7 separate regions of the Homo sapiens genome follow, and regions 2, 3, 4, 5, 6 and 7 are each linked to region 1. The links come from fine-mapping of genetic effects on gene expression. A gene starts in region 1. Each other region holds a variant in brackets. All regions are shown on one strand. Distances are between the middles of the regions.

Region 1 (4,069 bases):
CTGGAATAAGTCACTTAAACTCTCCATGCTGTGTTTTCCTTATCTGAAAAGTGGGGCTCATGTTCATTTGTTCAAAGGATTGGATAAAACCATAGATGTGATTTGTCCAGACGTGGTAGACTCTCCCTGTGTCTGTTCCTGCCCCACTCCCCTAACCAAACAGCCTACCCTACCTCCCTTTTACAGTCTTGGTTCTCTGCTTACATGATGTTCATGGTCTCTACCAGGAGAAAAGTCTCTCTAGCTGGTAACTCCACGGCGCCTGATAGTGAGCCCATTTCCCCTAGGCAGGTGCTTTTGGGTAACCCTGCTCACATGGCACTCCTCCTTCAGGACCAACCCTCCCCAGCTTCCCAGCGGAAGCACAGCTAAGGAAGCAAATCTCACAGACCCCAACATTGCCACAGAACCTAAGTGTTCTCTCTGATTAATATTAGCCTATGGTCCTAAATACTTGCTCTTAGCTGGGGCAATAAAGCGAGGGTGGTTAAAAGGCATATTATTTTAAACTGGCCCTGACGTTGATTCTGTTTTTCCCAGTCAGCTAATGTTACCATTTTTCTAAGTTGCATCCTGTCCCTCGTTGCATTTTGGTAGATAACATCTCTGGTTTCATTCTTACAGAAAGATTTGCTACGGGAAAGGAGAAACACGTTACCTCTCAGAGCATGGCTTCCATGGCTGATCTGAGATAGCCTCCAGCTCTTTGCTATTTTGGATACTGGGAAGTCAGATATGTGTATAAATACATGGACTATTGGCCCTTGTAAATCTCATTGAAAAATGCTACCCTTGGGTGGCTGATCAGTAGAATTGCTATAAATAGTAGCTCTATCAAATACCTTGATATTTCAATTATATTATATACAAATAAAAAACTTGGCCTAATAAAACATACATATATATGTGTATATATATACCACACATACTTGGGCTAATATGTTCTAACCAATTCACACTTTCAGTTTAATTAGGTTCATCACTGGGAAAAAAAACAGTTTATAAAGCAATAAATTTTCTTATAAATGTTTTTCTGTTTAGTAGAACATGGATTGTGGACCTGGTTTCTGACAGCCATTTTGAATTGTAGTAAATATTTTGACAAAAGCAACAGCAGTATTAAGCACATGAGAGAATTACTTGAACTGGGTCACACACAGTTTTACGTAGCATTTTCCCTTTAACTGCGTGCTTGAAGATAAATATATCATTAAGAACATAGAGTAAAAGAGTTTTTTTTTAACTGACATTTTATATATGCTTATGTCATGGAGCATGTTACATACCTTTATAAACAGTGGAGTGTTTTCAGCCAATGATGCTCTGATTCAAACACAATGATCTGGTTGCCCAGAGAAGACACCCACAGGTCCAGAAAGGACCACTGGGCTGGCCCCACAGAGAAGAGATGAGCTCAAGAGCCCGTGCTCTCACTCTCTGTAGGGAGCTCGCTACTCTTTGCTGAGAGGGCATTTTAGTGTTCTCTCCCAGTTCCTACTCTGCAGGCAGCATCTCAGAGAACGGAGAGATGCTCCCTGAGCCTTAGAAAATAAAATAAAATAAAAGAGGGCAGCCTCCTGTGGCTTGGCCTTTATGTCAAGTCCACGTTTAACTGAGAAAAGCACCATTTCAAGCAACCTGGAAGAGACTCAAGCAGAGATAAAACTTGGTATGGCCCAGAAATAGGAAGTAAATTATTTCCTATACATTACCTAACGTCACGGTAGCAACCCTTAGAAAACAGGAAGAGATAGAAGCAGACACGAAAAAAAAAAAAAAAGAGCCACCGCTCAGCTCTTTAGTAATTGTTACTATTGACCTAACAACCTATAAAGAGCTTGCTGCCCAGAAATGTAGGTGTGCAAAAAAACATTGCATTAGAGATGAGGTTGTTCTGTGCAGGCAAGTTTAAGAATTAGAGCCTAGGTGGTCGTTTTCCTGGAGATGTGGATGGAACAAGTGTTTGCAGAACCTCCACATGTAACCCCAGAGGTTCCTGAGGGCCCAGAATGAGCATTTCCACTGCAATTGACTATGGTGGGAGGTCCCAGTGAAAGATTTCTGCGATGCTGTCTTTATGTAAAATGGTGATATTTTGTTCAACATGGATTTGTTTGAATTAGGTTTTATTTTTAAGATATGGCACTGATCACTCTATTCAACATAGTACTGAAAATCCTAGCCAGAGCAATCAGGCAAGAGAAAGAAATAAAAGGCATCCAAATAGGAAAAGAGGAAGTCAAGTTATCTCTCTTCACTGATGATATGATTCTATATCTAGAAAACCCTAAAGTTGCCACCAAAAGACTCCTAGACCCAATGAATGACTTCAGTAGTTTAAGGATACAAAAATCAATGTACAAAAATCAGTAGCATTTCTATACACCAGTAATGTTCAAGCCGAGAGCCAAATCAAGAACACAATCCCATTTACAATAGCAACACACACACACACACACACACACACACACACACACACCTAGGAATACATCTAACCAAGGAGGTGAAAGATCTCTACAAGGAGAACTACAAAATACTACTGAAAGAAAACAAACAAATGATAAAACACTCCATGCTCATGGATTATAAGACTCAATATCATTAAAATGTCCATACTGCTCAAAGCAATTCAACACTATTCCTATCAAATTACCAATGTCATTTTTCACAGAATTAGAAAAAAACTATTCCAGAATTCATATGGAACCAAAAAGGAGCCCGAATAGCCAAAGCAATCCTAAGCAAAAATAACAAAGCCAGAGGCATCACATTATCTGACTTCAAACTATACTACAAGGCCACAATAACCAACACAGCATGGTATTGGTATAAAAATAGACACACAGACCAATGGAACAGAATAGAGAACCCAGAAATAAAGCTGCACACCTAAAACCAACTGATTTTCAACAAAGTCAACAAAAATAAACAGTGAAAGAAAGGACCCCCTATTCAATAAATGGTGCTGGGGAAACTAGCTAACCATATGCAGAAGAATGTTGAATAGAGTGATTAGTGCCACTCTAATTCCAGAATGAAACTGGACTCTTACCTCTCAATATATACAAAAATTAACCCAAAATGAATTAAATACTTAAATGTAAGACTTCAAACTATAAAAATCCTACAAGAAAACCAAGGAAATACTCTTCTGAATGTCAGCCTAGACAAAGAATTTAAGACTAAGTCCTCAAAAGCAAATGCAACAAAAATAAATATTGACAACTGGTACCTAATTAAACCAAAGTGTTTCTATGTAGCAAAAGAAATAATCAACAATGTAAACAGACAACCTATGGAATGGGAGAAACGATTTGCAAACTATGCAGCCAACAGAGGTCTAATATTCAGAATCTATAAGGAACTTAAACAAACAACAACAAAACCATTAAAAAGTGAGCAAAGGTCATGAAGAGACACTTCTCAAAAGAAGACATGCAAGCAGCCAACAAGCATATTTTAAAAATGCTCATCATCTCTGATTATCAGAGAAATGCAAATCAAAACCACAATGAGATACCATCTCACAGCAGTCAGAATGGCTATGACTAAAAAGTCAAAAAATAACAGATGTTGGTGAGGTTGCAGAAAAAAAAGGGAACACTCACACATTGTTGGTGGGAATGTAAATTAGTTCAACCCCTGTGGAAAACAGTTTGGATATTTCTTAAAGGACTAAAAGTAGAACTACCATTCGACCCAGCAATCTCATTACTGGGTATCTACCCAAAGGAAGATAAATCATTCTACCAAAAAGACACCTGCACTCGTATGTTTATCACAGCACTATTCACAAATAGCAAAGGCATGGAATCAACCTGGGTGCCTGTCAACGGTAGACTGGATGAAGAAAAAGTGGCATATATACACCACGGAATATACAAAGCCATAAAAATAATAAAATCATGTATCCATGCAGCAACATGTAATCCCATGCCTGTAATCCCAGCACTTTGGGAGGCCAAGGCAGGCGGATCACTTGAGGCCAGGAGTTTGAGACTAGCCTGGCCAACATGGTGAAACCCCATTTCTACTAAAAATACAAAAAATTAGCCGGGTGTGGTGGTGC
Region 2 (4,069 bases), 56 kb after region 1:
GGTCATGAGGAGATGCTGGCCCAAGCCAAAGGAAAACGTGTTTCCATTGGTTCGCATGATCCTGCAAAATGCCTCTAGGGCTTTGAGCAGGGCCTTTGGAGCCTTCAAGGTCACCACACAATCAAGAAGCCACCATGGGCACAGCAGTGTCCCAGGCTCAACAGTGCAACAAGAATATAGTCATTCATACAGGGAAAGGGTCTTGTTGATTGAATCCCCAACGTCAGGTGACCCCTAAGTAATTAGTCCAAGCCAGGCCTTACCAGCAACTGGTTGACAAAAGGACATGTGACCTAGCCTGACATGGCTGGGGAAGTCTGGGAAATATCCCCTCTACAAATGCTTATCTGAAATGGAAGCTGCCATCTTGCTTCCTGACCGAAGTTGAAGCTAACACATCCTGGAGGGCATGAGCAAAGCTAAGGCCCTAACTCCGAAGCCTGGAGCTGACCCACCTATGGACTTCCTGTTGGCCAAGAAGATAAATTCCCTTACAATTTCAGCCAATTTAAGGATTTCTGTTACTTAAAGTCAGGGGTCAGGGAGAGGAACAAAGTAAGAGTTCCCTGCCCTCTGACACACGAGGAATTCAGACAAGGAAGCAGGCAACTACCATTTAGCTACTATGCTGTGAAGGAGGGGATGCTTTCAGTGCTCACAAGCTAAGCTGAAACCTTATAAAGAGACAGTTAATTTCCTAGCCATTCGCCTTGATATCTATGTTTGGTTGGATAGTGCCCCTCCAAAATTCATGTTCTTCCTGGAACCTCAGAATGTGACCTTATTTGGAAAGAGGGTTATTGCAGATGTAATTAGTTAAGGTTACATAGAAGTAGGGGAGGCCCTAATCTAATATGATTTGCATCCTTATCAGAAGAGAAGATACAAGACACACAGGGGAGAGGGTCAGGTGCCAATGGAGGCAGAGATTGGAGTGGCACAGCCGTAAGCACAGGAGCAGCAGGTGTTGCTGGCAGCCTCCAGCAGCTGGGAGACAGGTCTGGAGCAGACCCTTCCCCACAGCCTTCAGAGGGAGCACAGCCCTGCCTACACCTTGATTTCAGACTTCCAGCCTCCAGAACTGCAAAGGAAACCATTTCCGTTGTTCTAAGCCTCCCAGTTTGTGGCCATTTGTTAGGGATGCCCTGGGAAATGAATACAGCTCCTTCTTTAACAGACCACATTTTTTTAAAGAAAAACTGATACATTTAATCATAATTTAAAATATCAATCCTTCAAAAGACATCAGTAAGAAAATGAATAGGCAAGTCATAGACTCATAGAAAATGTCTATACTATACCTGTCTGATTCAGGAACAATTAAGGGATTATTATGAATTTGTAATAAAAAGACAGCCCAATAAAAATAGGTAAATGTCTCGAACAGAACCTTCACAAAAGGAAGTACATGAATGGTCAAAAAGTACATCAAAATGTGCTCAACATCATTAGGTTACAGGAAAATAAAAATTAAAACCACAGTGTTATACAATTTTATAGACACTAGAGTGAATACAATTTTAAAAATTGACAGCACTGGCTGGGCATGGAGGCTCATGCCTGTAATCCCAGCACTTTGGGAGGCCAAGGCAGGCGGATCACTTGAGGCCATGAGTTCGACACCAGCCTAACCAACATGATGAAACCCCATCTCCACTAAAAAATACAAAA[A/G]TTAGCCAGGCATGGGGGCGCACGCCTATCATCCGAACTACTCGGGAGGCTGAAGCGGGAGAATCACTGGAACCCGGGAGGCAGAGGTTGTAGTGAGCCAGGATTGTGCCACTGCACGCCTGCCTGGGCGACAGAGCGAGAGTCTGTCTCAAAAAAAAAAAAAAAAAAAAAATGACAGCAGTAAATACTGGCTAAGATGTGGGCCAAGTACACCTCCCACATATTGCTGGTGGGGATGTAAAATAACACAACCATGTTGGGAGAACTCTTCTGGATATATTGTGAGGCAAAGACAAGCAAGATGGAGAAAAGGATGTACAATATGCTCCATTTATTTTTTAAAAGGTAGTAAAGTCATAAAAATCTATTTTACAAAATGCCATGAATGGGACATGAGAAGCTCCACTTCTCTGAATATACTTTGCAGAACCATATTTAGAGTAATGGGAGGAAGAAAGGACTATGTGCTCAGCTGAAAAAGGAAAAACTACATTTCCCAGCTCTCCCTGCAGAGCTGTGCCACAGTTCTGGCAGATGAGAGGTAAGCAGCAGCGGCCAGGTGGATGGACCTCAAGGTAACCTCCTTAAAAGACGCTTGTGGTCCTTGCGGGTTTGCCCCCTACCTTTCCTCTTCTTCCTGCCTGAGTCCAAAACTTGATGGTTGGAGCCGCAGCGGACATCTTGCAACACAGAAAGGCGGGGGAAAGGTCAGGAATGTTGCAAAGCCCTTGGACCAGGTGTCTGCACACCATCCTCAACTGTCTACCCTCAGACTTCTTTTTGCGAGAGAAAAAAGTCAACCCCTATCTTGCTGAAGTTTCTCCTATTTGGATCTTCTGTGACACGCAATCAGCTGAGTCCCTAACAGACACCCACCCGACAGATGAGTAAGAGTCACGTCAATGACCAGAGAAGAGAACATGTCTTGGGCAGAAGATGCTGTGTGTGCAGAGTCCCAGATTCAGACAGTAGCCTGATGCATTCGACCAAGGTGTTCAGATGGTGGCACAGGATGGAAAAGACATGTTGAAGAGGGATGAGAGCCAGAGAGGACAGCAAGGATCAGACAGGGGAGGGTGGGATAGTCACTGGCAGGGCCCTAACTCTTCAACTGGGAGGCTCAGCGCTCTCCAGCCAACCGCCATGCCTTTCTTCATCCCAGGGCAGGGAGAATCCAGAACCAAGATTCCACATTTGCCCATTGTGGTTTTGTCCTTAATGGTAAGCATGGGAACTTTCAAAGCAGAAGCTGGATCCCTGTTTTGTGAATTGAGTTGAATTATGGTGTAGAAGGAATTATGATGTAGAATGTGGCTCTAGGGTTTGAACTCAAGGAAAACATCCTCCTCTTCAGAATAAGGGATGGGTGGGGGGCTGATCTTACCTCCTAAGAAGTCAAATGCATCACTGAGGTATCCCTGTTGACCTGCAGATAAAAAGAAGCTCACTGCAATTAGGGCAATTAGGGAATTGAGCTGCTAGACAAAGAGAGTGAATATTCTGGGCCACAGCAAATTCACCTTAGACCTGAAATCTGATCTCGCTGTCTCTGAGGTTTCCAAGCGGTAACTTGGCTCCCTCACCCTGCTCAGTCTGATCCTCAAAACCCCAGGAAAATAACAATAACCAAAAAGGGAGGAAAAAAATAAACGAAGAAACAAATCAAATGAAACTATAACAGGTTTGTGATAAGATCCAGAGAGAAGCTGAGGCCAGGAGAGAGCAAAAGCCCTTAACAAATCATAAATGGCCAGCTGCTCTTGATAAGCCAGCCATCCAAGAAGCCATGTCCATCCACCAGTTTCGAGTTCTCAGCTCTCCAAAAATTAAATCTCTGCACCAAACCTATATCCTGGCAGCCACAAGTGTGGGCCAAAGGACATCCACCTTCACCCAGTTGGGATCACGTGGCTAAGTCAAGAGGCCTGCCAAGAGCTGTGCATGGAAGGACAGGATCACAGGAATGGCCAGAGCCATGATGCCCCGGGGAAGAATGCTGGAGAACTCTAGGGCTTTCCACATCAGAGAGTCCCCTGGGAAGGGCAGTGGGAGGCTGGTGAGAGAAGAATGAACCTTCCCTCCCCTAAGCACTTTCCAACGCAAGGGCAGCCCCAGCCTGCTGTTTTCCCAGTGAGCTTTGCTGCCTTTTTATTTCATTATAATAGCCTCCTGAAGAAAACACATACAAATATAATGCTCTTGGTTAGGACTGAGTTAGACATTATCCTGCAGAATATTATAATAAAGGCAGGGATTATTTATATGCTAAAGAAAAGTTCAAAATTATTATATTCATCACCGCAGGTAACTTCGGTAAGACATGATTGGCAGGTTGGTTTCATTTTTCATCAAGACCAAGTGGATGTTGCAGAAAGGAGAGGCTGCTGCCCTGTAACAG
Region 3 (4,069 bases), 95 kb before region 1:
AATGGCCATGGACTAATCCCAAGATGCTCAATGGTAGAGGCTGTTGAATTTGCCTCTGGCAGAAACTGAAGGAAACTGAAGGCAGACTGTGTCTGTCACCGCTGGAAACAAAGGTCACAGATGCCACTGAGCAATTCTTTCTGCATACACAGCCCAAAGATCAACAAGCTGACACTAAGGAGACTTAAAAAGTTGCTCTCTGTGGTTCTTAGTACAGCCAAATCCATTTCCCTCACATTTAGAAGTATGGAAGCAGTTATTTCAGCAGAACTTATGTCGGTGCTTCTGGTTGGGCATGAATTCCTAACTATGCATTCCTATACATCATTCTGTACTCACCGACTAATCAGCCAACACTCAAAACACCAAAACAAACAAACAAACAAAAAACATATTTATGCAACAAAACATTATGTGATTATTCCTTTGAGACCAAAATCCTTTGATTTGAAATGTCAGTTATTTAACTCTACAGTTTGACCAAAGAAACTTACCCAATAATCCCACAATTCTGTTTGTGGTCACCAGTTCTATTGTCTTGGAGAAAAAATGGAGACAGAGCTCTGCTTCATAGAAGCCAGAATAACTAGAAAACCTAACAGCAAACATACTGTTTAGGTTAGCTCGATGTTTCCCCAAGTGCACTGGGTAGACCACTGGTAATATGAAGATGGTATTTAACTGGCACATGAACAATTTTTAATAGTTTTACTACATTTAATGCATATTTGAAAATATACTTAACTCGAAAATTCAACAAGTTTTCATAGACATTATTGCTTAGGGCAATAATTGCTTCTTTAACACAGAGATAATTTAAATAAAAGTATTAAGTAAAAAATATACCCACATGTGGCATCTTGATACATATGGCAAAAAGCATTAAGATGGTTCTCAAATGACTGAAGTTTGGAACAAATAGATTAATTATAATAACGGCGATTACAGTTTGATGAGTTTGGGGAAAAAAGCTATTAACTGCCATCAATTAGTATACCTGTTCCTTCCATATCCTCGATCCCACTTTTCCCTCCAATGAATTGTGCCCCACTGACTTCAAGTGTCTTCAAGAGGTATGTAAATAGACTAATAACATTGTGTTGGGCTGTAAAAGTAAGTCTACTTATTCTTGCAAGGAGTACATAAATCACCTTCATAAGAAGCTATGATTTTGATTTAAGGATGTTTTCTCTGTTAATGAATAATGCTAAATGTCCAGAAAACATCAAATCCAAGGGGAAAAGATTCTGGATTATTGCACTGTGGTTCGTGCCCTCCTGTGGCTTCAGAGTTTCGCTACATTTAAGAATCTAAAACCAGATTCCTAAGTTACAGACTATAAAATATGGCAGATAATGACAAACGAGCTATGTGTGAAAAGGAAGCACCACAAGAAAGTGAGATCATTTGACATGACCTAATCCCTTTGTTGAGTGGAATGGGATACCAATACGGCCAACGAGGCATTGGGTCAATGATTAGGAATAATCAGATGTCCAATTCATAAAGCATATGATTTGCAGGGGTTTTGGTTAAAATGTTAACAAATCACGTGAGACATTTGCATTTTAAGTTTTATTTTTATCAAAACAA[AATAAT/T]TTAACCATATAAAGAAAGAAAGTTCAACAAACAACCAAGAAGCCAATCATTTCCCTGATTGTGAACAACCAATTGAGTAGTAAATCCTGAACAGTTGACCGCATATACAAGACATTCCGTCATCCTCTAGTGCTCCAAGTGGCAGAGGCTGATGTTTTTCCCTGGTTCCTATTCTTCCAGTGGTGAAGTAATGTGCTCAACTGTTCCTATACTTCTTCAGACCAAATTATGTATATTCCTACGTAAGTGCAAAGCATGGATGAAAAGAATCATACAGGGTAGAAATCCAGCACATAAGATTTTCTAGGTTCTGACCCTTATATTTAATGGGTTCTGAAAAATAAGGACAATAAATTGTGCTTAAATATTGAGAAATGTAGTGTTTCAAAAGCCAAAGTGCCTCCCTACATGAACTATGGGAAGAACAACTGAAGTGAGGAAAAATACACAAGCCCAGCTTGCTGCAGCAGTAGAAATATGATCACCCATAGAGCCAGGCAGGTCATATTCTCCTCACCATATTAAATTATGTCTGGGGAGTTGAGCAGCAGCACATTCCGATAATGATGACAGTTTCCATAACTATAAAGATCTGCTGCACCAGGCAAATTCTGTGCAAAATGCAAATTTCTGTGCTGGGGAAAAAAATGAATAATGTGATCATTCTAAGTAATGAATGTAAATGCAAGGAAATACTTTTTGGCATGAGACTGCAAATTGTTTATCTTTCATGCCAAGAACTGTGGTCACAGTGCACTTCTGCAAGGTTCCTCTTCCGGTCTCAGCTTTAGAAGAGTGATTTCAGGAAGAAAAAGTCTGTCTTGCCCTAGGTTACCCACCATGCTATTGGCAGTGTTTCCATTAAAATTCAGAGACACCCTCCTCCATCTTTTTTTTTAATCACTTGGCAAATGAACCATAGGTTCTCCTGGTTACTGTGAGATGTGAACCAAAGGGGATTATTAGCTTTGTCTCAAATCTCAAGGGTTAAGCCTAACAGGAGAGATGAGCTGTTTTTCAATGTGTTTTACAAGAAGGAGGATTCCAGTTGTCCACCAAAAATCACATGACTTTGAGTCACTTAACAATGTAGGTTGCCAAGGAGGGAAGGATTGAAACCTCTTCCCTCCATACATCTTTAACGACAAGATCTAGCTGGGTGTAGGTACAGGTGGAGAGAGAAACCTGGTGAGTCTTGAACATCATGGGGAAATGTCACTTTTGATATTGGCAAAAAAAAATTCAGTGCCCTTCCCTTAGTTCATGACAGCATCCCTCTAACTATTCTCTGTGGAAGAAACTGAGGCATCAGTTGGTTAAGACCCTTACCTAAAGATATAATAAAATTAACACTGGGAAAATTAGCACTGGGGAAAGAAGGAAATCCCTGATCTTTAAACTCTGGTTTGCTTTGTTCTAAAATAAATTTGTTTTTCCTTAACCATCATGCAGTACACACTTGCAGAGTATAAAACTGTGGTAGTTATCAATTGATAATACTGACATTTTATTTTTAGTAACCCAAACTGGGTTCTAGGTTGTTAATGTTACCCTTAAAATGTATTCTTATAATTGTATTTCACTTTAAGAAAACCCATAGGAAAATTAAGATTTATAAAATCAGAGATTGTTCATTGCTTTATAAAAAGATTCTTCATTTAAAAAAAATCTTTACCTTAGGATGCTTTTAAAGAGCCAGCTCCCTTAGGGTCATTCAAAATACATTTTTAATTTTTAAAAAATCCATTGACATACAGCTTTTTCACAAATTCATGTTGATATAAAGTAAGGTACACTTGTAAACATTGCCAGCCACTAGGCAAAGACCAGGGAAGCAAGGTGGCTTCGCTACCTGCTTTACCTTTGTAAGAGATACAGGGAGTTAGAGACGAAATCAATATTCCGCCATATTTGACCTAGGTTGGGATGTGACAGCTGGCAACGGTGGCTCCTATAGGGACAGAGCTTCCACCATCATCCTGAAGTTGGTGCTGTTTGGAGCTATGACTTACTGATTTACAGCCAGTGACCCCGTTGATTCCACAGTAGCCACCCAGAAAGGAGGGGTCTGGAAGACAGCTTTTTTCCCCTGACCAGTGCCTCCTAAGACAAAGGAGCCAGTTCAGCCTACAGATAGGTTTTCTCCATTCCTACTGGAGAGTTCTGGTTTTGCTTTTAATTTTTTGAACTATGAGCCACATGTATAGGCTGGATGATTGCACCCTAAAATCTGGAACTCTGGGGAAAAAATTAGATGGAGCTTCTTCAGGCTCAGGTTCTTCACAGCAATAATTGGTGGAAGGTGCTTGTGTTTCAGTTCCTCACTGTCCCCACCCAAACTTCTTGCATGCAAGGCCTCCGTGGCAATGGTTCCCCATGGGGAATATCTTCAAGCCATTGAGTCCATGCATTTTAAGGAGAGAGCAGCTTCTCTATCAACCATTCTCAGAAAAATTGGAACCTGGAGATA
Region 4 (4,069 bases), 29 kb after region 1:
GTACCGCTGCAAAAGGACTTTGCAGATGGAATTAAGGTTACAAATTAGCTCACTTTAAGATAGGAAAAATACTCTCAATTATAAAGTTGGGGCTGAAGTAATCACATGAACCCTTAAAAGCAGAAGAGAAAGGCAGGGCAATGAAGCAGCAGCAGAGGGTAGGAGATGAGGCAGGAGGGGAAGGAAGAGAGACTCGAAGCATGAGAAGGACTTGACAGCCTATGCTGGCCTTGAAGGGGGCCATGAGCCAAGGAATGAGGCAGCCTCTAGACCTTGACAATGTATTCAGTCCACAGTTAGTAAGAAAACAGGGACCTCAGTCCCCCAACCACGTGGAATTCAATTCTGATGACAAGCTGAATAAGCTTGGAAGTGGATTCTTCCCCAGGGCTTCCAGTAAGGAACACAGCCTACTGACTTTTTTTGAGACAGGGTCTTGCTCCGTTGCCCAAGCTGAAGTGCAGTGGTGCCATCATGGATCACTGCAGCCTCAAATTCCTGGGTTCAAGCAATCCTCCCACCTCAGCCTCCCAAGTATTGGGTTGGTGCAAAAGTAACTGTGGCCACTGAAAGTCATGGCAAAAACCGCAATTACTTTTGCACCAACCTAATAACTGGGATCACAGGCATGCACCATCATGCCTGGATTATTATTATTATTTTTTTTTGAGATGGAGTCTCGCTCTGTCACCCAGGCTGGAGTGCAGTGGCACAGTCTCGGCTCACTGCCAGCTCCGCCCCCCGGGTTCACACCATTCTCCTGCCTCAGCCTCCTGAGTAGCTGGGACTACAGGCACCCGCCACCACGCCTGGCTAATTTTTTGTATTTTTAGTAGAGACAGGGTTTCATCACGTTAGCCAGGATGGTCTCGATCTCTTGACCTCATGATCTGCCCGCCTCGGCCTCCCAAAGTGCTGGGATTACAGGCGTGAGCCACTGCGCCCAGCTGCCTGGATTTTTTTTTTATTATTTTGTGTAGAGATGGAGGCTTACTATGTTGCCAAGGCTGATCTCAAACTGCTGGGCTCAAGTGATCCTCCCAATCTCGCCTCCAAAGTGCTGGGATTCCAGGCATGAGTTGCCACACCCAGCTCTGCCAACTTCTTGATTTTACCTTTGTAAGACTCAGAGCAGGGAACCAGCTGAGACATGCTATTCCTGGACCTCTGACAAACAGATTGTGAGATAATAAATGGGTGTTGCTTCAAGCTGCTAAATTTGTAGTAATTTTCTACAGCAACAGTAGAACATGAGCCCAGTGATCTTGTGTGAGTCCCTTCTCTGTGGCTTATTTTCCTTATGGGTCAACAAGAATAATAATAGTCGTTATTCCTTAGAGCTACCGAGAGGCTGAAAGAGGACTGCTGGGGTAGCTGGTGTAGAGGAACCAGTAATCAATGTTCCTGCTGCCATGCAGATGGTTTTTTTTCCATCTTGGAGGGGAAGGGGCCAGTGGAGGTGGATACCTGTCATGCATGGTATTCCTCAATCCTCACCACAACCCTCTAAGCCAGGTGCTTTCATTAGTCTCATTTATAAGAGGAACCTGAGGCACAAAGAGATCGAATGACTTCCCCAAGATTGTACGGTTAGTAAGAAGCAAAGTTGAGATTCCACCCCAACCCATGTGGCTCCAGGGCTCTGTGAGGAAGACTACAGACGCTCCCATCCCAGATGAGCACAGAGA[G/A]GTTGGGAACAGAAGGACCACGCAGCCAGTCTATGGGGAGCCAAGCATGTGAGAACAGTGTCTTGAGCCAAGACGACAATAAACACATGCCTTCTGGCTTGGCCCATGGTGGGACCGCTGGGTTTCTCTTGTCCTTCTCAGGTCTCTGAGAGGTCCAGTATCTCACCTGTAGCTTCTCAGAGTAGACTAAAGAGAAAGCCCACAGTTTCCATCTGCTTAAAGGTCAAGAGAGAAAAGCGGATAAAGAAAGACCCATGCAGCTGTTTTCCCTTCAGTCTCCTTGTTCCTCATTTATTCAGCAATCAATGACGTTCTACATGTCAGGCACTGTCCTTGGTGCTGGGTGACAGTGATGAGCAGGATGGCACAGTCCCCATAAGGAAATACAGACAAGAGACAAGAAAATAACCGAACAAGGACACAAGATCACCGTGGATAGAGGGACTGCTTTGGGCCTGGGTTCTGCTACTTCGAGTCCTCTTTGGTAGGGAGGGAGAGCAGGAGGGGAGCAGGGGATCTGCTGGCTGCTACAGCCACTGCTTTCTGTCCACCATTCAGCAAGATTCTGGGCATGATAGTCCACATTAGAGGGTTCTGGGGTGGTCCTCAATGCCACTGAGAAGCCAGCAGGAAGCTGACCCAGAAACATGCCCAAGACATCTGCTGGGAACCAAGGAGGAGCATCTGAGCTGTGAGGTGTTCCCATATCAGGGCCCCAAAGAGCAGCAGCCCCACCATGGGCCAAGCCCAGAAGGCATGTGCTTATCATCGTCTTATCCCACGGCACTGCTGACCAGTGACCTGCACTTGATGGCAATGATGCGCTCTTCTCTGGGACCTGAGAGTGAGCAGCATGGAAGTCAAGTAGGGCCTAAAGGAGCAGAGAGCCAGGGGGAGGCATGCACTCTTGCTCCAGGGCTCGTCCTTGCCGCTGAGCTGCCTCCCTTCTCTGAGTGTCTGTTTCCAAGCTGGAAAATGACAGAATGCAGGGAGATGAGCTCTTGAGTCTCTGACCCCTGGACTCCAGCATGTGCTTCTTCCTCACTTGGTCAACCAGCCTTTATCTGCTGCTTGTTGTGTCCCCAGCCCTACACCCATAACCCAAAATCCATGCTTTCTATTCCCTTTTCCTCCTTGGCAACTGTCAAATTGAGGCACACACGGGGCCACTTGTTCTGCCCATGGGCAGGGCCATCTGGTTCTGCATGGAGATGCCTATGGACAGACCTGCATTCATATACATTGCTTTAAATTATCACAAAAATTGAGTTTGGATAAGAACTTGACGGGGGAGGTGTGTTTTCCTACTGGAAAAACAAGCATAGCAACTGCCCAAAGTGATCCTATGGACGTCATGCAGGACCAGAGCATAGCAACTGCCCAAAGTGATCCTACGGACGTCATGCAGGACCAGAGCATAGCAACTGCCCAAAGTGATCCTATGGACGTCATGCAGGACCGGAGCATAGCAACTGCCCAAAGTGATCCTACGGACGTCATGCAGGACCGGAGCATAGCAACTGCCCAAAGTGATCCTACGGACGTCATGCAGGACCGGAGCATAGCAACTGCCCAAAGTGATCCTACGGACGTCATGCAGGACCAGAGCATAGCAACTGCCCAAAGTGATCCTACGGACGTCATGCAGGACCGGAGCATAGCAACTGCCCAAAGTGATCCTACGGACGTCATGCAGGACCGGAGCATAGCAACTGCCCAAAGTGATCCTACGGACGTCATGCAGGACCAGAGGTTGAACATACCCTAACAGGTCAGTTGAGAAGCTTCCAGCTGTGGTCAGCAGTGTAATGGGCCACTGTCAGGCCTTGGGAGCCTCAGCAGAGTGGAGCCTCAGCCCAGCTGGCTCTTGGCACAGCTCACCCGGGCCAGCAAGGCTGGAGAAGCGGCCTTCAGCCCTGACCAGCTCACCTTCTTCCAGCTGAGGGGTGCTTGAGATGAAGTTGAAAGTTTGCTGAGGATTCAAGTTAATTCACCAGTGTAGCAATCTGGTGATTACAAAAAAGTATGAAAAAGACAAGGTGCCCAATTGAAAAAAAAATAGGCAAAGACATTTCCAGAAGCCATGCCAATGTCCAAGGAGCCTATGAAGAGATACTTCACCTCTCTGATCATCAAAAGAAAAGCAGGTGAAGATGAGATGTCATTTTTTATCCACCAGACTGAGAAGAAGGTGAGATATTGCCAAAGCTGGGCTTGGCAAGGCTGCAGGGAAGAGGCCTCCTCCAGCCCTGTTGATGGGCATGTGAAATAGTAAACTTTCTGGAGACCAGCTTGGCAATATGGGCACAGCGATTAATCGTCTAGAAAATTTTTCCTGACAACATAATCAAACACATTCACTATAGGCATATACAAGACAG
Region 5 (4,069 bases), 88 kb before region 1:
AGGGCTATACATCTAGACCAGGAATAGGTAGAGGCAGCTCAAAATCATCATGCCCACCTTCACAGTTCGTTTGTCCATTTCCCTGACAATTCTTGAACTTGTACCAAGAGAGAGGGTTCCTAAGGTTTGTCTGCAGTCACCTTCCTTCTTCTCTTCCTTCCCACAACAAGGAGGTGATTCTGAGGTGGCACAAGATGGCTCCTCTTGCAGATTCAGACCTGCAAGGGGAGAGGCACATTTACATATGACTGGAATTATAAAATTAGCAAAGAGTAATTTCCTGGGAGGTTGTCCATGACTTCTTGATCGCCTCTGAGCTCATTAACCCTCATCTCACAGGGTGTGTGCAAGAACTCAATTTATCTCCAACCAATTCACATTTGGTCAAATAAAATATATCCACTCTATGAAGGAAGGAAATGGCAAAACCAATTCTCAAAGTAGAAAAACCCCTGAATGATACATATCATAAAATATATCTATATTTCATGTTGCTTCTTCTCATCAGAGTTGTATTCCTGGTCATGTCTGTTTAGGTAAATTTTAGATCAGCTTGAATTCTCTGACATACTACCAAGTAGTCAGAATAGACGTTTCACTCGATGCATGGTGGGAACCCAGAAATATAAACCAGGTCTTAATTCCCACTAGAGTGCTGGGCAGCAAGGGATGAGGTTGGCTTTTGTGATGCTGTTGTTTTGTTGTGGTGGTTATTGTTGTGATTGTGGAAGGAAAGAAGGGCCCTGACAATATCCACAAAACAGCACTTCTCATACCTGTCTTTCCTTCATCCTTCACCCGCACTGATGACCTGGCATACCAGTCAAAAGGATCACAAAATTTCAGAGAGGGCAGGTTCCATCATGATATGAGATCAGAGAAATATCTTAAAACGACTGTGTCACTAGAGAAGAAGCACTAGACCCACTTTTAAATTTGCTTTTATTTTGATGAAAGGTACACATGTGCAGTCTGAAAAGTCAAGCCTAACTGTGTATTAAGAAAAACTGCAACCCCTGCCAACCCATCCATCTTTTCCCATTCGGGAGTCTTTTGACTTTTAGCTCCTTCATGTCTGATAACATTGTTATAGAACTACATTTTGTGGAAGTAGTAGCTGTGACTTCTCATGGGGAGAGAGGAGGGTTTCCCTCTTCTTCCAGCTCTCCTCCTCTTCAAACTTCATGACCCCCCACACAAGCACACATTCCACCTCTCTATCTTCTCAACAGTTCTCTAACCCCTATGGCCTGTTTTCATTTAGGCGAATATTCCATGTTTATATTAGTATGTTTAGGAGAATACCTGTCAGCACTGAATCTTGTAGTATACTACGATTACGTTGCCTTTCTTGTGAAAACTGCTTTCCCTGGGATTAATGACGATTTTGCTTTTTAAAAATTTTGCTGAGTTTTCTATGGACTCATTTCTAAAATCATTTTCCAACCACCTCTCCAATTGTCTGAGGTTTCATTTCATTCTGTGAGAAATGTTTCCTTGAAACTTTCTGATTTGCTCCAAGTGGACCATGTTTCTCTGCAGCATGGCTGTGCCCCTGGGGTCTCCCTTCATCCCCGCTGTGCTGATTCTCTTCGCCTCTTTCCTGGTTCCTGAACCTCTACAACTTCTTTTTTCTTGGTTTACACTCCTGCTTTCCTAACACAAAACTTCTAGTAGTTTCATGAGAAAGGGTACATGAAGTATAACTCTTTAGATGTCATTGGCAGCTTGGCTGGGTATGACATTCAAAATCGGAAATCATTTCCCTTTGGGGTTGCAGACACGGCTCTATTGCGTTCCAGTTGTTGAAAAGTCTGGAGACAATATGATTTATGATTCATGGTCCTTTGGATGAAATCTTTTTGTATGTCGTTCTCTGGAATCCCCGAGGCTCTTCTTTATTTCTGGTGTCACCACAGCCTGGGTCGATCTTCATTCATTGGCTGGGCACTCAATCAATTCTTTCAATCTGAATCATGTCCTCAGGTTTTAGAAAAATGTGGTTCTGTTTTTCTTTTTTCCTTTTCCTTCCTCATGTACAATGCATTGTTTTGAAATATACACACATTGTAGGTTGGCTAAATTAGATTATTAATAACATATGTATTAGCCCATAGGCTTATCTTTTTTTGGCAAGAACACTTATACTCTCAGCAATTTTTAAGAATACAAAACATTGTCATTAACTATAGTTACCATGTTGTACAATATAACTCTTGAACTTACCTGTTATTTCTGATTTTTTTTCCCTTCTGTTTTGTCTTCTCTCTCTTTCTAGAA[T/C]TGCCCTTATTGGGTTATTGGATCTCCTAGTATAATCTTCTATTTTTCTTATCTTTTCGCTGTGATGTTCTGTTTCTTGGTCTTTTTGCTTCACTTTTGGGGGAATTTCCTCAACTTTATATTCCAATGAGTTTCTATTTCTGCTATTATGCTTTTAATTTCTAAGAGTTCTTTCCCATGTTCTTTTTTTATAGCATCCTGTTCTTACTTCATAGCTCTAACATCCTCTCTTTTACCCCCGGCAATGTTAATAATGGGTTGTTGTTGTTGTCGTTGTTGAAGTTTGCCTCCCCCTACATAGTCCCTCTTCCAAGTTCCTTTGTTTCCATTGGTTTGTTTTTATTTCTCTCTTTAGGTTGGTGGCTTTCCTGAGAAATACAGCAATCTTCGCTGCTTATGTTTAGGAAATGGGCACAAAAAAGCTGACTTGGTGTTCTTTACAAGTGCAATCTGTCAACCATGGGCCCTACTGTTAGGTTATGTGGTTGCCCTGTTTCAGTGGGAACCCTGAAGTAGTTATCTGCAGGTCTCCACGTGTACTGGTCAGCTTCTACAAGAAGAGTCCTCGGGTCTCCTGACTGGAAAATAGAAGCCAGGCTGCCGGCATTCTGGAGTCAAAATTAGAGAAGAGATTCTGGGGGCTCATATGCAGTATTCACATTTGCTCAAACCCCATTTTCAATCTAGTCCCCTCACTCCCCTGCTGAACTAATTATGCCAAGTGTCCCCCAGCATTTTGTATGCTGTCCAGAGACTAAGCCCCTAGTCTTCTCCAAGGGTGAGGGAAGTTACCAAGCTCTGAGAAGTAGAAACGGAGTGGGAATGAAGTCTGATTGCTTCTTAGTCTTTCAATCAATCTTGTTTTCAGCCACACCTGGTACCATGAATGTCTGAGTTGTGGGGAGTCTTCTCACTGTTAAATCAGGATTCCATTCCTTGGGGTCAGCTACATCAGTTCCCATTCAGACTCTGCACTCCAGTTTTCAAACTGGTGGCATCATTTCTTCTCCAAGTCGTTTCTCCTTGTGAGCTTATATATTAAAAACACCTTTAATTACTAACCTCTTGTTGGTTGTTAGAGAAAAGCTGAGGTAAATAAATGTGTTCCATCCTCCATCTTAAACCAAAAGAACAGTTCCACTTCTTATATCTCAAGGGGTAAGTTACTAGATTACCAAGTGTGCTAATCCTGAGCAAATCAACTTTGAAAATCCGTAGAGAAGTGCACAGTTTGGGAAAGATAGCAATGCTTTTTTCTTCCACACAATCTTTCTTGACCCTCCCGTGTACTCAGGTAATCTAATGGCACAGAACCAGGCTTTTGGTACTCCATTCACCTGTTCAACAACCACATCCTGGGCCCCTTCAATGACCCAGGCACCATGCTCCACCTTGAAGAGTCTGAGAAGAACAAAACAAAGGTGACGCTGGCCCTCAAGAGCTTCTACTGTAATGGGGAAAGAGAAGCAAAGACAAGGAAGCAGACGCCTATTGTGATGGGGTCGCAAAGGAAATAAATCGAGGACGGGGATATTACCGAGAGTGAAAATGAGAGTATTACAGGCAGTAACAATTAACAGGAGGCTATTCCAGACACTAATGAGAAATGGAGGGGAGCATACTACAGACTCATGATAAGCAGGGGGTAGTAAAGAGAGTAATGAGGGGGCTTAATCCAAAGAGTAGCCAGGGAGGACTGTTTTATATAGTCAAGGAAGACTTCTCAGAAAGGCGACATCAGAAATGAGACCTTCAGAGTGAGAAAGAACAAGTCCACAAAGGATATTCT
Region 6 (4,069 bases), 40 kb before region 1:
CCACACACTTGCAGGTGTTAAGAACGGCACAGTTTGAACTGCAGGGAGGTTTTACTTTCAGAAAATTAGCAAGCGGGGGTCTTTCTCCTCACGCAAAATAACAAGGAGAGAGCTAGGAAAGGCCCCGCCTCTGAATTCGCACTTCATCAAGGTGGAATTTCAAACTTTTTGCCTTCGAGAACAGCCCAAGTGGACCTTGGCAATGTCTTCAAAGGACTGTTTAGTTTAGTCATGGGCAGGGTACGTTTCTCTCTCTCCTGGTTCTCCCAAAACGTTCTGTGTGCAGCCCCTCCTGGAGAAGCAGCATCCTGGCTTAGGAAGGTTTTGCAAGCTCATCTCCATCACCAGCCATGCAAGTCCCCTCAAGGTGTGGCCAGTGCTGTTGGGGCCCCATCCAGGACACTTTCGTCAGGCTGCACCTCCGCACCCGGCTGTGAGGGTGATACACTCGTCACCCCCTTGCCACCTTTGTCAGGCTCTCTCAGGGAAGGACAGTAGACCCAAGGAGTGGCTCTTGCAGGTGTACACAGCCCACTCCACACACATTCCTTTCTGGGGCGAAACTATGAGATCTGACGTGCTATTTCCCTCACTTTCCTCTCTTGACCCCACAGAGAAGAACAAAGCAAAGAGAAGAGCAGTGGAGGTGTGGATGGCAGAGCCTCTGTATCCTGCTAAGCAGGACCTGGGACTGCTGTCAAAGCTCTGGGGCTGTGGCCAACGTGACAAAGAGTCTCAGCCACATGTGGTGGGGGTCACATGCAGCAGAGGCCACGTGGACTCAGGGCCACATCTGTAGGTCTTTGTCTTTACCTCACTGCAGAGATTGTGCTCTCATTACTGAGAGTGCTATCTCATTGAATAAGTAAATTGTGTGATGACTAAAGTGAATAGACACATGGCTTAGACAGATAAACATCCGCTCCATAAGGAAAAACACTATCTGCTAATAGAATTGCATTCTCAAAGCCCAGGATTTTTTTCTTCTCCACTCTCCCCTTCAACGACTAATGTATATTTTAGGGTTTTATAGAGTGCCCTTCTCCCATACAACCTGCAATCTTCTCCTCGCTCATTTCCATTCACTTGGGGCTTCACAATTCATTGTTCCATTTGTTGGAAGCTTCCTAGGAACAAGTCTCTGAATGTTTCATGCTTCATACAGCACAGTACACAGTTATAAATTAATCAATAAAATCTAATTCCATGATCCCGCGCTTGCTTTGGGCAAGGCAGGGAGGTATTTTGTGAGTGCTCCGGATCTCTATGCCTCTAGTTAATGTCAGGGCAATTAGGCTTCTGAGTATGAATTTTCTGCGTTTTTCCATTTCCACTCTGGAAGTGGATCCTGCATTTTCTAATCTCTCTTCTTTAACTCATGTAGTTTTGTTAATGAAAACAACCATTTTCATTACAGTGTGGTATTTGCAGTTGGCAAAAAACATAGAGATGAATGAAAGCAGAATGAAAGGCCCTGAAAAAAACTTCAAGTATAAACGGGAAGCTAAAATTTAACATGTAAGTGGGCAAAAGTGGATTAATGCAGGGGTCTGCTTGATTTTTATGCAAAGGTCCAGCTAATAAATATTTTAGACTTTGTATGCCACAGACAATCTGTGCCACGTATTCTTCTTCTGTTTTTATATGGATAAGCTTTTAAAAATATAAAAACCAAGCCAGGCATGGTGGTGCATGCCTGTACTCCCAGCTACTCCAGAAGCTGAGGCAGGAAGACCACTGAGGCCAGGAGTGTGAGGCTGTGGTGTGCTATGATCACACCTGTGAATAGCCACTGCCCTGCAGCCTGGGCAACATAGTGAGACCCTGTCGATCAAATATATATGTATATAAATAATGCGTTGCTCATGGTTAAAATAAGTTAAAAACCATATTTAACCCGTGGTCCATAGTTGTCTTTATAAACAAAAATAAAAATAAATCCTTCTATATATATGAATTCATACAAGAAGAAAACATAAGATAACATATCTGCATATTTTTGAAAGTAGGAAATTGAGAGTAAAGAAAGATTTCTTAGATATACCAAAAAGTCATGAAAAGACAGCCCCATTTGACTACATCAAAATTTACAAATTCTTAATGAAAAAACCATCATTATCAAGGTTAAAAAATAAGAACTCCATTTCCAACAGCACAGTGGACTCAATACTCTGACTGATTACCACCAAATTTATCCTTATACTGAAAACAATTAAAAATGCAGCGTAAAATGTAAACATTTTTTAAACTTATATTTAAATTTACGTATGTTCTGATTAAAAGATAAGAAATAGTTCAAAGGCAAAAACCAAGTGA[G/A]AGCTGCGCCCTGGAAAAGTGAGATTGCTTTCACTTTGAGGAATCTGCCAAACCAGATGAGGATGACCTTCCTATTTTCATGCTCTGGTGCAGCTGAGGGTACAGGACTCAAAGCCCAGAATGTTCTTCAGTGAGAGGCACATGGAAGACCCAACCTCCTTTCCTGCATAAAGCTGAGACCTCTGAAAGGCATACTCTCAGTATGTGGGTGAATTAGAAATAAATACTCCCTACCCCACCACCTGCCCGGGGAACATAACAACAAACAAACGAGCACCCCCAGGCACCCAGTGGAAGCAAAACAAATATTTATTGGAGGAATCCACCTTCAACCCACATCTCAAAGTTCCAAAAATATCAACTCACAGTCAAAAATTTTAACACAAACAAGGAAATAAGTTAACATATGTGAGAGCAAATATATAAAACAGAGTCAGATGTGCCAAGACTTCATAGGTTGTCATTGTCAGATGCAAAACATTAGATGTGTTTTTTTTTTTAAAAAAAAAAAAAAAGGTTGAAAATAAGAGTCAAGTGCAAGAGACTATAAAATGATCAAGCAAATTAAAAAAATAATTAAATAAAACTTTTTGGAAATAAAATATAATTCACATCAACAATTGAACTTAAACTTTAGCAGACCAATAAAAGTAGGGGAGATCAACTAGGAGGCACTGCAATAGGCCAGGGACTTCTGACCAAGACTTTGCAAAAGTAACCAGATTTACCATCCCAAGTAAAAAACTGAATAAAGATACAAAACAATAGTGTTCAGGGCATTGGACATTGAGCAATAAAGGCAGTGATCCATGAAAGAAGAGAAACAGATGAGGTAAGCCTGATGACACCTCAACTTATTGATGGAGAAATTTTCCAGGTCTGGAACCATTTGTTGAAAAGACTATACTTTTTCCGCTGAATTTCCTTTGAGCCTGTATGAAAAATCAATTGACCACAGCATGGTCTATTTCTGTATTCTCTATTTTGCTCCATTGATCTTTGTATCCATTTTGATGCAAAAACCACACTCTTTGGAATACTTTAGCTTTATAATAAGTCTCAGAGTCAAGCGGCGTAATCAAGTCAGTGTGGTATTTGCATTGAAATAGACAAATAGATCAACAAATGATGCTGGAACAACTAGATAAGATATCCACACACAAAAATAAGAACTTCGATCCATACATCACACCATATGTAAACACTAAGTGAAAATGAATTATAGACCTAAATATAAAACTTAAAAGTATAAAACTTTAGAGAAAAATTTAGAAGAAAAGCTTTGAAGCTCTGTTTAGACACACTTTTTTAAACTATGACACTAAAAACATAACAAAAAAAGGTAAATTAAATATCATCAAAGTGAAAGACAGTTGCTTTTTAAAAGATGCTACTAAAAGAATAGAAAGATAAGCCATAGATTGAAAGAAAATAGTTACAAATCACATCTCCGATAAGGAACTTATAATCAGAGTATATTAAAAAAATTCTCAAAACTCAATAAGAAAACAACCCATTTTTGATGCGCAAAAGATTTGAAGAGACACTTCGCCAGAGAAGATATACAAATGCTAAATAAGCACACAAAAAAAGATGCTGAATATCATCACTTGTTAGGGAAATGCAAATTCAAGCTATAAAGAGATACCACTACATAACTATTCAAATGACTAAAACTAAAAAAAATTACCATACCAAGTGTTGGCAATAATGTAGAGAAATGGAACTCTCATACTCTGATAGTGGAGATGTA
Region 7 (4,069 bases), 23 kb before region 1:
GTGTTGGTGAGGATGTGGAGAATTTAGAACCCATAAACACGACTGGTGGGGATATAAAATGATGCAGCCACTTTAAAAACAACTGGGTAGTTCCTCAAAAAGTTAAACATGTATTACCATAGGATCCAGCAATTCTACGTCTAGGTATATACCCCAAAGAATTGAAAACAGGTATTCAAACAAAAATTTGTACGTGCATGTTCACAGTAGCTTTATTCAAAATAGTCAAAAGAGAGAAATGACAGAAATGTCCATCAGCTGATGAGTGGATAGACAAACGGCAATATACAGTACCGTAGAATCGTAATCAGCCATAAAAAGCAACAAAGTGCTTGCACATGCTACAACATGGATGCACCTTGAAAACGTCATGCTGCATGAAAGAAGCCAGACACAAAATATCACGTGTTTTATAATTGCATTTGTATGAAGAAACTGGAATAGACAAACTCACGGAAACAGAAAACAAATTATAGTGGTTGCCAGAGGAGGGGGAGAATGGGGAATGAGGCTTTAACTGGGTACAACGTTTCCTTCTGGGGTGATGAAAATGTTCTGGAACCAGACAGAGGTGGTAGTTTGTAAAACTATGAATGTACTAAGTGCCATAGAATTGTTCACTTTCAAATAGTTAAAATGGTGAATTTAATGTTATGTGAATTTTACCTCAATTGTAAACAGGTACTGTCTCAATTTTTTTTTTAAAGTATTGTCTTCATTGAGCAAAGGTACTCAATTTTTTAAAAGTACTTTGGGCTGCTATAACAAAAATACCCTAGATTGGGTGGCTTAAATGACAAATATTTATTTCACACAGCTCTGGAGACGGGAAGTTCAAGATCAAGTTTAAGTCCAAGACAGGTTCAGTGCCTGGTGAGGGCCTGCATCCTGGTACCTAGATGGCCGTCTTCTTGCTGCCCCCTCACATCACGGAAAGACCAGTGGAGCTCTCTGGGGTCCCCTTTATAAGGCACTCATTCCACTCATGAGGGCTCCACGTCATGACCTGACCACCTCCCAAAGGACCCACCTCCTAATACCATCACATGGGGAGTGAGGATTTTACATGTAGATTTGGAGCTGGGGGGAAGAAACATCCAGTTCACACCAGCTCCTACATACTCAGAGCTCACCACTGCTAAGGATTCTATGGCATCTTCCATTCTCAGGGATCTTGGGGCCATTTATGTGGGATGTGCTGGTGTGGTGGGAACGCTTCCTGGCAGTGTGGAACGTCACACCTCTGGCTCTTCCCAACCTCAGCATCAGTAGCATCATGTTCACAGCTTGAACTGGCCACAGTGGAAGCACTGACACCACAAAAATCAGCAAATGCTACAAGTCAGTCCTTTTTTTTTTTTTTCATCCTGAAAGCCAGTCTCAACATTTACCAGCACATCACTGAGCAGAAGGGAGGACCCAGAAGACCATTGCACCCACTCTCTGTCCCTCTCCTAAACCTCTGGTCTCATTATGAACCTCACCACACTAGGCCATCTGCAAGAGCCCCTGGCTTCAAAACAATCTGAGACGTTCTAATTGTTTAAGGAAAGATGTAAAGGCAGGAATCTTTAGAGATTAACAGGTAGCTGCCAGAACGGATAAGAGCTAATAGGAATGGAAGATAAAGGCTTACCTCAAGACGCTGCAACCTTTCTACTAGCTGAGAATTTCAGGAACCTCCCCAGGAGACCAGTAGGCCTGAATTTCTGTCTCTGCTTAACCATCTTGCTAGAGGGTGGCCCTGAGACTGTTTCCTCATCTCTAAGAACAGTGGCATTGGGGCAGAGCCACCAGGAGGTTCAGATGAAATAAGTTATGTGAAAACACCAAGTGCTGTGCCCAGCACAGA[G/A]TAAGCGCTCCATTTATTTCAGTTTTCAATTATACGCCATAATATTTTGAACTATTAACTACCGGTTCCTCCCCCACCCTGTCTTCCTCCTACCCTTGTCTCTTCCCCCATCCGTCAGCTCAGCAGTCTCCATGCATCGCCTCTAGCAAGGGATGCTGTCTCGGGGTGGGTTCCTGAGAAAAGGATTCCATTCCCAAGTATTTTATTTGGGAGGTGATCCCAGGAAACACTTGTAAGGAAATGGGAAGGCTGGGGGTGAAGGAGGCTACAAAATGTCCAGCAAGTCCCCACTGTGGGTGACTGGAGCTTAATCCCACTGGGGGACACCAGGAGATCATGTAGAACATGCACCCCAGGGGCAAGTGAGCTGCCTGCATCGGGACTGCCTGTGGGAGCAGCCATGTCCTGGCATTTCCAGCTGCACGCATGAATGCACGGGGTAGGCTCTGTGGCCACAGGGAGCCATCAGACACAGAAGCACTGCCTGCAGTTGGCTCTTAAATGCTGAGTCGGAGAATAGGTGAGCAGGGCTTCTGTCTTCCTGTGGCAGAAACTCAGTAAAGGCGTTTTAATTCCAAAAGCCCCAAACCCTAAGGAAACTGGATGAGTACAAGCCTCCTGTCCTGATCCCCCGGTTATAATGGTCATGGGTGGGGAGGTCACGGAAGGGAGGAAGGGAGAAATAAGTCCGTCCAGCTCCTGCCTCAGTGGCAATTCCTGCTCCATTCCCCAGGGCAGTCTGGAAAGAGGGGTGCCAGGACACAGAGCATCAACAGCCCGGAGTGTGCGTCCAGGCAGGAGGACGAGGCACACGCAGAGCTCTCGCTGCAGGACGAATTTCAGAGCACCCAGAAAGGCCCTGAAGTGACTGGGAAAATGGGGCCAAATTGAGGGGGTTGTCACCCGAGGGGTGTCTCAGTGGGGGCCTGCCTGGGGAGCTGAGGGCTGAGTATCATGTGCCCCCCAAAAACTTTAGCCCAACCTGGGGGTAGGGGGAGGAGGAAAAGGAGCCCAGAACTGACTCTCATAGGGTGGGAGGCTTGGGGCTTCAAAGTAGAAATGCCAGGAAAAGAGCGCTATGTTTCCGACACACCTGCCACGATGATCATTTTGTGCTCTCTGCAGCCTGTTCTGTGATCACTGCGAAATTGACGCCTTTGAGTAACAGCTGATCCCTGCTGGCAAGATGACAGCTGACTAACACCTTCCTCGAGGGAGATGACGCTTTTCTCAGGAAAACCTCAAAAAGCTGCAGATAATTTTGCTCACTCTGAATCAAGGAGATGGCAAGTCCTATTGTCCCCATTGGACTGATGGGGAAGCTGGGGGCCGGGGCTGGGAAAGCAGCTCGCTAGAAGGCTTACCTCTTTGAGCGAGGGAAGGGTCCGGGACAGCCCCTTGGTCACCTGGACTGAATGCCAAGCCCTCACCCTGTTGCCATCCCCAGGCTCCCACACGCAGGGAACTTGGCGCATCCCTCATCTGCCGCGTGTGCAGCTCCCCACCTCCTCCCAATTCCCCCCCACAAACAGTTATATCTTTTGGCGCAAATGTGCAGCTTTATGGAGGAGAGGGGAACAAAGAGGTGGGAGAAACTTGAAGAGAAGAAGTGACAATTTCCCAAGCCCTCCTTTGCAAAAGCAAACCACAAATGAGCCTGGGCAAAGAGAGAACATGAAAATGCCATAAGTAGGTTTTTAGAATTTACATTTAGGGCCCCGAAAGAGAAGGCCATGGAGAAGCATATTGGATACGTTTAGCAGATAGAACTTGGGTACTAAGATGGCTGGTGTAGTTACAAGTTTCCCAAACTTCCGTTCATCCTGGACCACCATCACCCACTCCGCCACGTATGGGGACCACTTACGCTGTTACTCAGTCCCCACCCTACCTGTGTAGAGCCTCATGCCTAGAACACCATTGCTTTAAAAGGGATGCATGCAATGTGAATGCACTTCATGCCACTGAACTGTATGCTTCACAATGGTGAAAGTGTTATATTTTATGTATGTTGTATCGCAATTTTCAGAAAGTAAAAAAAAAGGGGGGAGGGAGGAAGAGGAACTATATCATTGCCCAGTGAGTTGAAAACTGACATTCACACAAAAACCTGCACACTGATGTAAACATCAGCATTGTAATTGCAAAAACCTGGACGTGAGCAAGATGTCCTTCAGTAAACATCAGTAAACACACATCCAGACAATGGAATATTAT

Direction of the effects. Positions count from the first base shown, and alleles are read on the strand shown. Sizes are in standard deviations (SD) of each study's normalised expression. Not every link is listed here.
As copies of C replace T in region 5, the expression in whole blood of the gene that starts at base 1,673 in region 1 goes up (small effect, 0.24 SD a copy in Lepik 2017).

What was found. PIP is the estimated chance that this variant, and not a neighbour inherited with it, causes the effect.
Region 2: its variant is fine-mapped to the expression of ZNF831 in whole blood (TOPMed, PIP above 0.99).
Region 3: its variant is fine-mapped to the expression of ZNF831 in whole blood (TOPMed, PIP 0.98).
Region 4: its variant is fine-mapped to the expression of ZNF831 in whole blood (TOPMed, PIP above 0.99).
Region 5: its variant is fine-mapped to the expression of ZNF831 in whole blood (Lepik 2017, PIP 0.92).
Region 6: its variant is fine-mapped to the expression of ZNF831 in whole blood (TOPMed, PIP 0.98).
Region 7: its variant is fine-mapped to the expression of ZNF831 in whole blood (TOPMed, PIP above 0.99).

Annotation. Positions count from the first base shown.
Region 1 is chr20:59,161,425-59,165,493 of GRCh38, reverse strand. ZNF831 (zinc finger protein 831) reads right to left here and starts at 1,673. Exons shown (of 6, transcript NM_178457.3): 1 at 1,287-1,673.
Region 2 is chr20:59,105,358-59,109,426 of GRCh38, reverse strand. No RefSeq gene overlaps it. Among named protein-coding and RNA genes, the nearest start is that of ZNF831, 56 kb to the left of the region's middle. RefSeq lists an enhancer at 2,863-3,364. The variant A/G (reference allele first, on the strand shown) is at 1,672.
Region 3 is chr20:59,256,605-59,260,673 of GRCh38, reverse strand. ZNF831 (zinc finger protein 831) reads right to left here. Exons shown (of 6, transcript NM_178457.3): 6 at 1,561-4,069. Among named protein-coding and RNA genes, the nearest start is that of EDN3, 42 kb to the left of the region's middle. The variant AATAAT/T (reference allele first, on the strand shown) is at 1,594.
Region 4 is chr20:59,132,330-59,136,398 of GRCh38, reverse strand. It overlaps a transcript of ZNF831 not described here. Among named protein-coding and RNA genes, the nearest start is that of ZNF831, 29 kb to the left of the region's middle. The variant G/A (reference allele first, on the strand shown) is at 1,689.
Region 5 is chr20:59,249,127-59,253,195 of GRCh38, reverse strand. ZNF831 (zinc finger protein 831) reads right to left here. Exons shown (of 6, transcript NM_178457.3): 5 at 58-218. Among named protein-coding and RNA genes, the nearest start is that of EDN3, 49 kb to the left of the region's middle. The variant T/C (reference allele first, on the strand shown) is at 2,281.
Region 6 is chr20:59,201,087-59,205,155 of GRCh38, reverse strand. All of the region lies in intron 3 of ZNF831 (zinc finger protein 831), which reads right to left. Among named protein-coding and RNA genes, the nearest start is that of ZNF831, 39 kb to the right of the region's middle. The variant G/A (reference allele first, on the strand shown) is at 2,317.
Region 7 is chr20:59,184,237-59,188,305 of GRCh38, reverse strand. The region is part of intron 1 of ZNF831 (zinc finger protein 831); the gene reads right to left. Among named protein-coding and RNA genes, the nearest start is that of ZNF831, 22 kb to the right of the region's middle. The variant G/A (reference allele first, on the strand shown) is at 1,853.